Homo sapiens: one gene and its partners. The protein of the gene in region 3 purifies or fractionates together with the protein of the main gene of each other region. This does not show direct contact. Each region holds a gene or a part of one and is shown on either strand. Other genes may lie near its edges.

The links.
Region 1: the proteins of SCARA3 (region 3) and LRIG1 purify together in Homo sapiens (affinity purification with mass spectrometry; 3 studies listed by BioGRID and IntAct, with this or other methods). This does not show direct contact.
Region 2: the proteins of SCARA3 (region 3) and DEGS1 purify together in Homo sapiens (affinity purification with mass spectrometry; 3 studies listed by BioGRID and IntAct, with this or other methods). This does not show direct contact.

What each region holds. Positions count from the first base shown.
Region 1 is NC_000003.12:66,396,500-66,400,150, forward strand, and holds part of LRIG1 (leucine-rich repeats and immunoglobulin-like domains protein 1 isoform 1 precursor), read right to left. Parts: intron 2,543-3,651; coding exon 2,471-2,542; intron 1,685-2,470; coding exon 1,613-1,684; intron 1-1,612. UniProt on the Homo sapiens protein: Acts as a feedback negative regulator of signaling by receptor tyrosine kinases, through a mechanism that involves enhancement of receptor ubiquitination and accelerated intracellular degradation.
Region 2 is NC_000001.11:224,186,136-224,189,786, forward strand, and holds part of DEGS1 (sphingolipid delta(4)-desaturase DES1), read left to right. Parts: intron 1-3,441; coding exon 3,442-3,651. UniProt on the Homo sapiens protein: Has sphingolipid-delta-4-desaturase activity. Converts D-erythro-sphinganine to D-erythro-sphingosine (E-sphing-4-enine). Catalyzes the equilibrium isomerization of retinols.
Region 3 is NC_000008.11:27,640,305-27,643,955, reverse strand, and holds part of SCARA3 (scavenger receptor class A member 3), read right to left. Parts: intron 1-3,651. UniProt on the Homo sapiens protein: Seems to protect cells by scavenging oxidative molecules or harmful products of oxidation.

The DNA of each region.
Region 1 (3,651 bases), on a different chromosome or scaffold from region 3:
ACCAAGTGGAATTAACCATTTCTCTCATCTGAGGACTGGGCACAGGGCCGGCTCCAGCGAGGTATATGCAGCAACGATGGGAAACCCAGGCAGGAGACCGAGGCTGAGCCTCCAGAACCATGCAGAAGCACGCTGGAGGTCCAAGCTTCTGGAAGGGTCCAGTTCCTCCCAACTTCCCAAGGAAAATCTTATCCTCCTCCCTCCTTCTCTCAAAATACCTTCTTCCCGTTTAAATTGAATCAGGTATTTTTCAGTCCTGACATCATATCTGAAAGTTTCAAAGACAGAAAAGGTGAAAGAATTCCACAGTGAATGCTCCTGTGCCCCACCGCTTGTCTTCTACAACCAATGTTTCATTCCACTTGCTTTACTGCGAGTCCACCTCTGAGTCCAGCCTTCCCTTCCACGGTGGTCTGGAATCATCTCCTCCCCTGCTCTGGAAGGAGAGCCATGGAATCCTTTCTGTATGTTCCGTCTCACCCGACAGATGGAGGCAGAGCTGCTGAGGCTGGAAGAGGGAAGGCCCTGGGCACGGAGCAGCTGTCTGCAGAGCCCTGAGCTCCATGAACCCGTCACAGACACCCGCTCCAAGATCCAACCCTTGCAAGGACGGTATCTATTCAGCAGGCCTGAGGCTCACAGCATGCTGAACATCACAGGGCAAGTGCCCAGGCCACCTTCCCTCCTCACTCAGTCTGGTGTCACCCGGCCCGCTTCAGTTCCCAGCTATGGGGAATGCACCTCATTTCCCCAGTCCCAGCCTCCCTGCCCCAACTGAGGGTTCATCAAGAGTGGCCTCGGGGAATGGGGATGAGGTCAGGGCACAAAGATGACTGTCCTGTGGCATCTGCCATTCTGTCAGCACTTCTAGGAACCAAAAGTTACCCCTTCAGGGAACTGATATCATGGCTAGAACTTACTGGCTGTAGAATCAGATTCATGTCTAGCTAAAAAAAAAAAAAAAAAACCAGAAAGGAAAACTTGGGTGTTACACCTGAGGACCCAGACTAGCTCCCCTGCCAGAGTAGGATACAGGGAAGCTTTTCCAACCTTGTCACCCAAGAGCCCACAGTCCAAGTCCACAGTGGCAGCACCACCACCTGTGAACCGTGCCCAGAAAGCTTGGAAATGGTATGGGCAGACACCACTGCACCCCTAAGCATCCCATCCCCTCCAGAGCTCTGCCTTGCTCACAGCCCACCAGGCTCTGAAGTAGACCCTCTCAACACAGGCCTTTATCGTAAGCAAGCCCAAAAGATGAAAACTTGGCCCTGACATAATTGAAGGGGTGATTATCCACTTTATAGAGGAGAGTATATTTCACATTGCCTAGAATAGTGGTTAGCAAGCTTCAGCCTGCGGCCCGACTGCCTGCTTCTGTCAATGTGACTTTATGGGCACATAGCCACACCCACCTGCTTATGTAATGTCTATGGCTGCTTTCTGCTGCAATGATGCAATCAAGTAGTCATGACAGAGACTCTGTGGCCCACAAAATCCAAAATATGTACCATGTGAACTTTTAACAAGTGAGCATAATGCAATTGCAGAAGTTTCTTACTCTGAAAGTCTCCACTACCATTAATCAGACCCAGGGAATCCAGATACTTACAGCTCTTTAAGATTCTTCATCTTCACAAAGGCATCAAACTGGACAGATCTGATCGCATTCCCTCCAAGGTTCCTGAAACAGAACATACATTACTTATGCAAAGAAACCCTAGGTACACCTGAGGGGTTTTCAGGACAGTCCTGGTTTCACAGATGACCCACAGGGACTAGCCAGACCTGTGTCCTAACTACTATAAGTGGCTGTTGTTTCCCAAATCGCAACACAAGCCCATGGAATGACTCAGGAGCCAAGCCAGCCTTAGGGCACCATCAAAGCTGGGCTGAGGCCTGCTCAGCAAGGCAAAACCTTTCCCAACAGAGTTAGAGTCAAACTTGATTCAAAGAGGAAACAAACTAAGAATCACATACATGAGGCATCCTCCCCAGATGGCAACAGCATGACTGTCTCGGGTGGCTCTGTTCCCTTCCTCCCAGGGTCTCAGAAGCAACCACACCAAACTGGTTCAGCCCAGCACCTACTCTGCATTGTTAAGCTGCTTTAATGGAGGCAACAGGCTTGGCCAGGAGGAAGCGCGTTGGTGGAAGAGGCAATGAGGCCAGGGGTCCATGAAGGAGCCAGTGCAGGGGTTAGGCTGCGCAGCAGGAGGGGGGAGGGTATTTATCCAAATACCAACTGAATTAACTGGGAGCACATCCACTGGCCATATGTTCTGTAACTGTTCCTGGCATAGGCAACATAAAGGCCAAAGCTGAAGCTGACATAATGAGAAGGAAGCAGCTGGTGTTTCCAAATAGCCTGTTTCTCAGTTTACAAAGATGCGATTAAATTGCTAGCAGAACTCCCCGGCAGCCGCATTCAGCAGGCTGTGCCTCAGGGCAGGGCTGGTGAGATACTCACAGGTGCTCCAGGCCTTCCAGCCCCGAGAATGCTCTCTTAGCCACAGACTTGATCTTGTTTCCAAACAGAGTCCTGTAGTTTCCAAACATCCAGAAATTAAGGCCAGGGAAGGAAAGCGAAACAGGAAGGGTTGAGAGAAAGAAAAAGAAAAAGAAAACACACAATTAAGGTAGTGCTACCTGATAAGTCTGTCCAGTGAGGGGCAGGTGGAAAGCTGACCTGCGCTGAGATTACGGGTTTGAGGCACGCAGGCCTTCCCCTTTCTGAAATGAAATACTTTTATCTTTATTAGAATTTAATAGTGATGATAGGCTGGAATTGCATGTGCCGTCTGGCCTAAAAAAGGCCCCTCCCAGTGTTAGGCAGAAATCACCTTGTCTGGCCCAGTCTCTCTCCAAGGACCACCAACCCTTGGGTGGTGAAGTTTAGTGATGGAGAGATGAGACTGATTATGGTTTCAGTGAGAGGAAGCTGAGTCAAAAAAGGAAAGAAAAATCTTCGGAATTAAAACTGCTGACCATGACTGGGCATGGTGGCTCACACCTGTAATCCCAGCACTTTGGGAGGCTGAGGCAGGAGGATCACTTGAGCCCAAGAGTTTGAGACCTGGACAACATAGGGCAACCTTGTCTCTACAAAAACTAAAAAATTATCCGGGCATGGAGACACGCACCAGTAGTCGTAGCTACTTAGAAGGCTGAGGTGGGAGGATTGCTTGAGCCCAGGAGGTGGAGGCTGCAGTGAGCCATGATTGCGCCACTGCACTCCAGCCTGGGCAACATAGCGGGATGTTGTCTCAAACAAAAAACAAACAAAAACCCCCAAACTGCCACCCACTTCTGAAAAGTGCATTCTGGGAATAAAGCTTCCCAAAAGAGGCAAGAAGAGGACAGTAAAATAGGCATCCATCAAGCTGGCTCCACAGCTGTCTGCACCTGAGATGTCCTGGCAGCCAGCACACAGCCATGGTGAGCTGTGTCCCTGCCTACGAGAGGGACCCCTCAGGGCCTGCAGGAGATGCCCCAGTGCTTTGGCTCTTAAGCCAGACCCCAGACGTTACATGATGTCAGTGGGCCAACCTCCAACGTTATCGCTAGTGCCTGTCCCCTTCCTGGACTGCCTGCTCATAAAAAGGGGTTCCTGCCTCCAGGCAACTCTGATCCCAGCCTTAGCAGTAACTG
Region 2 (3,651 bases), on a different chromosome or scaffold from region 3:
CTACCAAAAAAAAAAAAATTTAATTAGCGGGACATGGTGGCATGTGCCTGTGGTCCCAGCTACACAGAAGGCTGAGGTGGGAGGATTGCTTGAGCTGGGGAGGTAGAGGCTGCAGTGAGCCGTGATTGCCCCACCGCGTTCCAGCCTGGGCAACAGAGTGAGACTGTCTCAAGAAAAAGAGATGAAGGAAGTGAGAAGGTGCTGATTGATACTTACCTCACACTGAGCCTTTTTTCCCCCCACAGACTTATCACTGAACCATTTCACTGGGAAAGTAAAAGGACCACATATTTCTTGGCCGGGCATGGTGGCTCACGCCTGTAATCCCAGCACTTTAGGAGGCTAAGGTGGGCGGATCATGAGGTCAGGAGATCGAGACCATCCTGGCTAACACGGTGAAACCCCATCTCTACTAAAAATACAAAAAATTAGCCGGGCGTGGCGGCAGCCACCTGTAGTCCCAACTACTCAGGAGGCCGAGGCAGGAGAATGGCGTGAACCCGGGAGGCAGAGCTTGCAGTGAGCTGAGATGGTGCCACTGCACTCCAGCCTGGGCGACAGAGTGAGCCTCCGTCTCAAAAAAAAAAAAAAAAAAAAAAGAAGGACTACATATTTCTCAATGAAAATACAGTGTACAATGTTTTCCATGCAGGTGTAAATACTAACTCATGTTCTGTTTCAGGGTGGGAGATGGAATAACCTGTAGAAAGAATCTTTAGATTTGTTTAAATTATACACAAATGATAAGAGATCTTTCTGAAAGTATTGACTTTTTGGCGGGGGAGGGAAGGGGCCTGATAGAACAACCAACAATTGTACACTTTAAGTTTACATTTAGAGTTCACATTAAAAGTTCATTTACAAGGCATCTGTTTGAAATTCGTGAGGATGAGCTGGGCTGGGTGGCTCATGGCTGTAATCCCAGCCCTTGGGTGGCTGAGGTGGACAGGTCACCTGAGGTCAGGAGTTCAAGACCAGTCTGGCCAACATGGTGAAACCCCGTCTCTACTAAAAATACAAAAATTAGCTGGGTGTGGTGGTGGGCGCCTGTAATCCCAGCTACTGGGAAGGCTGAGGCAGGAGAATTGCTTGAACCCAGGAGGCAGAGGGTGCAGTGAGCTGAGATCTCACCATTGCACTCCAGCCTGGGCAACAGAGCGAGACTCCGTCTCAAAAAAAAAAAAGAATAAATCACAAGAAATGGTTCCTTCACTGTTATACTTTAACATGATACAGCTTTTTAATGTTTTATTTTTTGAGAGAGAGTCTCACTGTGTTGCCCAGGCTGGAGTGCAGTGGTGTGATCATAAATTCTTGGGCTCAAGTGATGCTCCCGCTTCAGCATCCTAAGTAGCTGGGACTACAGGCTTGTGCCACCTCACCTGGCTAATTTTTTTTATTTTTGGTAGAAATAGAATCTGTTTGCCCAGGCTGGTCTTGAACACTGGGCCTCAGGCAGTCTTTGTGCCTCAGCCTCCCAAAGTGCTGGATTAATGGTGTGAGCCACAGCACCTGGCCAATAGCTTTATTGAGATTATAATTCAACTATCATGATTTATTCATTTAAAGTGTACAGTTCAGTATTTTTTAGTATATTCACAGAGTTGTGCAGCTGTCACCACCATATAACCTTAGAACATTTCATCATCACCAAAAGAAACCCTATACTCATTAGCAGTCCCTCATATCCCCTGCTTCTACCTAGGTAACCACTAATCTACTTTGTGGCCTATAGATTTGCTTATTCTGGACATTTCATATACATGAAATCATAAAATACCTGATCTTTTATGATTGGCTTTTACTTAGCATAATATAAATTTTTTTTTTTTTTTAATTTGTAGAGACAGGGTCCTGTTATGTTGCCCAGGCTGATCTTGAATTCCTGGGCTCAAGTGATCCTCCTGCCTTGGCCTCTCAGAGTGCTGGCATTATAGGTGTGAGCCACTGCACCCAGCCATTAGCATAATATTTTAGCTGGGCACAGTGGCATGCTCCTGTAGTCCCAGCTACTAGGGTGACTGAGGCAGGAGGATCACTTGAGTCCAGGAGTTTGAGGCTGTAGTGAGCTATGATGGCATCACTGTACTTCAGCCTGAGTGACAGAGGTAGACCCTGTCTCTAAATATTTTAAGGTTCATTAAAATAATATATTTTCAATAAAATAATATTTCAATAAAATAATATTTTAAGGTTCATTCATGTTATAGCATATGTCAGTGTATGATTCCTTTTTCTGGCTGAATAATATTCCTTTGTATGGATATACCAGGTGTTTAACATTTTGAGGAACTGCTGTACAGTTTTCCAAAGCAGCTGCACCATTTTATATTCCCACTAGCAAAGTATGAGGGTTCTAATTTCTCCACATCCTTGTTTTTACCTACCTTTTTTTATTATAGTCATCCTAGTGAGTGTGAGGTGGTATCTATGGTTTCAGTTTGCACTTTCCTAATGACTAACGGTGTTGAGCCTCTTTCATGTGTTTCTTGACTGTTTCCGTATCTTTTGGAGAAAAGTGGGTTCAGATCCTTTGCCCATTTTTTAATTGGATTATTAGTTGTAAGAGTTCTTCATATATTCTGGATATAGGTCCCTTATGAGATACATGATTTGCAAACATAACCCCGCTTCTGTGGATTGTCTTTTTACTTTCTTGACAGTATCATGTGCAACAGAAAGTTTTTGATGCTGTCCGATTTCTCTGTTTTCTTTTGTCACTTGTACTTGTTATAGTATCTAAGAAACCACAAAGGCCATGAAGATTTATTTCTATGTTTTCTTATCAGAGTTTTATAATTTTCTTATAAATTTGGGTCTGTGATCTGTTTTGAGTTCATTTTTGTGTATGGTGTAAGGTAGGGGTCTGAATCCATTCTTTTGCCTGTTGATAACAAGTCGGTCTAGCACCATTTGTTGAAAGGACTGTTCTTTCCCTGATTATATTGGTAGCCTGTAGTATTGGTTTTTATATACTATTACAATTTTGGGAAAATTCAGTACAGAATTACTTGGAGCATGTTGATTTGTCTGAGAAAACTGTGAATACCAGTTTCATGATTTTAGGGTAACTACAAAATGTATATTATATTCTATCCTTTGTCAGATGTGTTAATTTAATCGTTTTATATAAGGTAAGAATGCTGTACCTCTGTCTAAACACAGAAATAACATGTATTTTAATATAAAGAATGTGGAACTTCTAAACTTTGAGGCTAATTTTTCCTGCATAAATTCTCAAATTATTGTGACATGATATTTCATAACTTTACTAGTAGAATCCTTCCCTGTGTTATTAAATATCCACTAAAGTCTCTAGTAAAGGGAATATGATTTACAGAACAAATTTAATGTGTTAGTTTAATTGGTGTTAATTTAATTATAATTGGTGAACTATTACATACTTTTCTTAGTTCCTGTTTTTTTGTTTTTTCTTTACAGCAAAGTATCCAGAGATAAAGTCCTTGATGAAACCTGATCCCAATTTGATATGGATTATAATTATGATGGTTCTCACCCAGTTGGGTGCATTTTACATAGTAAAAGACTTGGACTGGAAATGGGTCATATTTGGGGCCTATGCGTTTGGCAGTTGCATTAACCACTCAATGACTCTGGCTATTCATGAGATTGCCCACAATGCTGCCTTTG
Region 3 (3,651 bases):
TAGAAAATAGCCCGGACCTGTTAACCAACTGCTAACTCAACTGTGGTCACCAATGCCGGCTTTCTTTTGGTTGACCAAAAATGTGTCCTTGGTTCCCTCTTTCGCCTTTCTGGGACTGCATTCTTCCATCTGAGTCAACAAGGGGGAGAGATTCGAGGAACTGAATAAAAGGTCTTTCTTTGGGCACTTCAAGGAACATATTTTGATAATTATCTTCTGCAGGGTTCACAGAGTGGGTTTTCAAAACAGCCAATTGGATCGGTAAAAATAAAGATTTCAGAGTCTTCTCTGGAGCCAATGCTATATTTAAAGTGCAGAATAGCTATTAGTTTAAGGTTGGAGAACGCTATAAGTAAGGTTGCAAAATTGTTTTCATTAGAGCCCTTCCGCCACTACCCCCTCTCCACAGGCTTCCTTTGTGGGTTTGTCTGTAATCGGTTGGGAATCCGCCTGCCCGCTCAGGTCTCAAGACACAGGTCCTTTCCCTTCAAATCTTCTTGCTCAACAAGTTGTCCTTTTCTGCTTCCGTGGCTCTGCCAGTTTCTCTCCTCCAGCACTCGCCCCTTTTTTGGTCCCCATCCTCAAGCTCCTGCATCCCTAAAGCCACATCTGCTGCTCTGAGACAGGCTTCCCTCCCGGTTCCTGCTACCTCCACCTGAATCCCTTTGGCTGCCTCCCACCCTGTTCTTGGTAACCACAGAGGTTGTGGGTAAATCCCTGCTTTATCCTAAATCCCCTTTATCCTAAACAACTTTCTTGCCCTCAACTTTTCTAACTTGGACCCTATTCCAGGTGGTGCAATTCTTCATTAGATGAGCACGGCCCACTCTGCACAGACATTCAGCATCCTGGCCTTGCCCGCTAAAGGCCAATAGCAATCCCTGGTCATTGTGACAACCCCGAATGCCCACCCATTTCTAAATACCTGCTCGCAGGCTGGTGCTGCCTCTAGTTGAGACAAGAACCTAGGCTACTCACTCAATGCAACAGACTCCCCCCATTACTTACACACTGATCTCCTCTCTGTCCACAGCACCAACCCCCCCGACTCCCCTGAACCCCATGAATTCAGAGGGATGGGAGGGGTGGGAATCACTGGCTTTCTTTTCTTTTCTTTTTTTGTTTCTTTTTATAGACAAGGTCTTGCTCTATTGGCCAGGCTGGAGTGCTGTGGTGCGATCATGGCTCAGTGCCGCCTAGACCTCCCGGGTTCAAACGATCCTCCCACCTCAGCCTCCTAAGTAGCTGAGGCTACAGGTGTGTGCCATCACACCCAGCTAATCTTGCTTATTTTTTGTAGAGACAAGATCTCACTATGTTGCCCAGGCTGGTCTCAAATTCCTGGCCTGAAGTGATCCTCCTCCCTGGGTCTCCCAAAGTGCTGGGATTACTGGCATGAGCCACCATGCCTGGCCAGGAATCACCAGTTCTCTTGATCCCCGTTGTCACCCCTGATCCTGCAAATCCTACCCTGTCTCGCATGGGCACCCCACTTCCCTCCTCTGAGTTTCATGTTCCTTATGCGTAAATGGTGGGGAGATCGTCCGCTTCAATGAGCTGCTGTGAAAATCCAATGAGACGTATATGAAAAGTACCTGGTACATCGTAAATGCTTAATAAATAGTAGTAGCAGCCACTTTTATTAGGATTATTTTTCTATCCTATTCCAATTAATGCTGCCATTTATTGCCATCTCCCAACCCCCATCACTCCCAGGACCAATTTCCAACTTACAAGAAATCAGTGTTTCAAAACATATCCTATGGGACACTAGTCCCAAATTATTCTTTGTGAAAAAGGATTATTTGATCAAGTAAGTGTGGAAAACATGGCATACTCTATCGCCATCTTAGAGATTCACATTCACATAGTAAGCATTTTGAAAAGTCCTGCCAAAAAAAATAATAAGCCCATTTAAATCTGTGTTTAACTCCACGTTTCTCAGACTTATTTGGTCATGGAACTTCCTGCAGATCTTGAAAAATAAATGTATCTTTTAATTCTGGGACCTATGTTCAGAGGCAGAGGGACTCTGACTTTAGGGAACACTGTTCTGGACAATGACATCACCTGGATTGGATGAATTCTTCATTCTGTCTCCTGCCATCAACTTGAATGGAAGCAGCTTTTCTGTTGAAACTCAGGGCTCTGGACATGGGATTTACTGTCTCATCTCTACACATCCTGCCTGCCCTCTGGAGCTTAAGGCTTATTGCTGTTCCATCTGCTTGATCTCAAGCCCCTTGCCTTCTTCATCCCCAATGCACTCAGCCTTTCCTCGCTCTCCTTCCTCCAAGTTCTCATTCGCCCTGACCTCCAAGCCCAGCCCAGTCCCCAAGGGTTGAGTTCTGCCCCATGGAGCCTGTAGTTCTCTCTCCTGGCCATGGTCCCTTCCATCCTCAGCCTGCTTTCTTCGAATTGCACTAGAGAAGCCTGGAGCTGCAGGAGAGTGTCAGAGGGGGGCATGCATTTGGCTTCAGCCAAGTCCTGCCATCTGGATCCTCACTTCCCATTCCTGGGTTCCTCCTCAGGTCAGCCCACCTCATTCCCCAAAGATGAGCTCACCCCCTCCTTTTCTGAAAGGATCAAGACCATGAGGTTCCAACTTCTTTCTTTATCATCCACTAACTCTGTCCAGATGCCTACACTTCAAACCCAGTCTGGGGGAGGGATGGGGAAAGAGGCCTTCTCGTGCATTCTGAGTAGCCTGGCACCCTCTGTCAATACTGCAAGGGCGAGTGCCCTTTGACTCAGTAATCCTCCTTCTAGGAACTTCATGTTAAGAGAATAATTACACAATTAGGCCAAGGTGTATGTGTAAAGGTGATCACTGCATGCTATGATAAATCTGAGGGAAAATGCAAATAGCTAAAATGCCCATCTCCAGGGGATTGGTTACATAAATGCTCGTAGAGTCTTACTATGGGATGTTATGAAACCATTTTTTAAAAATACTGCAAGCTGGGTGCAGTGGCTCACGCCTGTAATCCCAGCATTTTGGGAGGCTAAGGCAGGAGGATCACTTGAGCCCAAGAGTTTGAGATCAGCCTGGGGAACAGGGTGAAACCTCATCTCTACAAAAAATACAAAAATTAGCTGGGCATGGTGGCATGCATCTGTAGTCCCAGTTACTTGGGAGGCTGAGGTAGGACAATTGCTTGAGCCTAAGAGGTTGAGGCTGCAGTGAGCCATGATAGTGCCACTACCCTCCAGCTTGGGCAACAGAGCAAGACTCTGTCTCAAGCAAAGAAACAAACAAACAAAAACAAAAGCAACAACTAAAAACCAGCACTAAGAACAAAAACGCTAAGTAATCGGGAGGCTGAGGAGGGAGGATTGCTTGAGGTCGGGAGCTTGAGACCAGCCTGGGCAACATAGCGAGACTTCATCTCTACAAATAATACAAAAATTAGCTGGGCATGGTGGCACCTGCTTATAGTCCCAGCTACTTGGGAGGCTGGGAGGATCCTTGAGCCCAGGAGGTCAAGGCTGCAGTAACCTACAATGGTACCACTGCACTCCAGCCTGGGCACAGAGTGAGACTATGTCTCAAAGTAAAATAAAATAAAAATAAAAATAACATGGATAGTGTAATCTTATCTACATGAAAAAAATCTGTGCAAACATACACAGAATGATTTCTGAAGAATG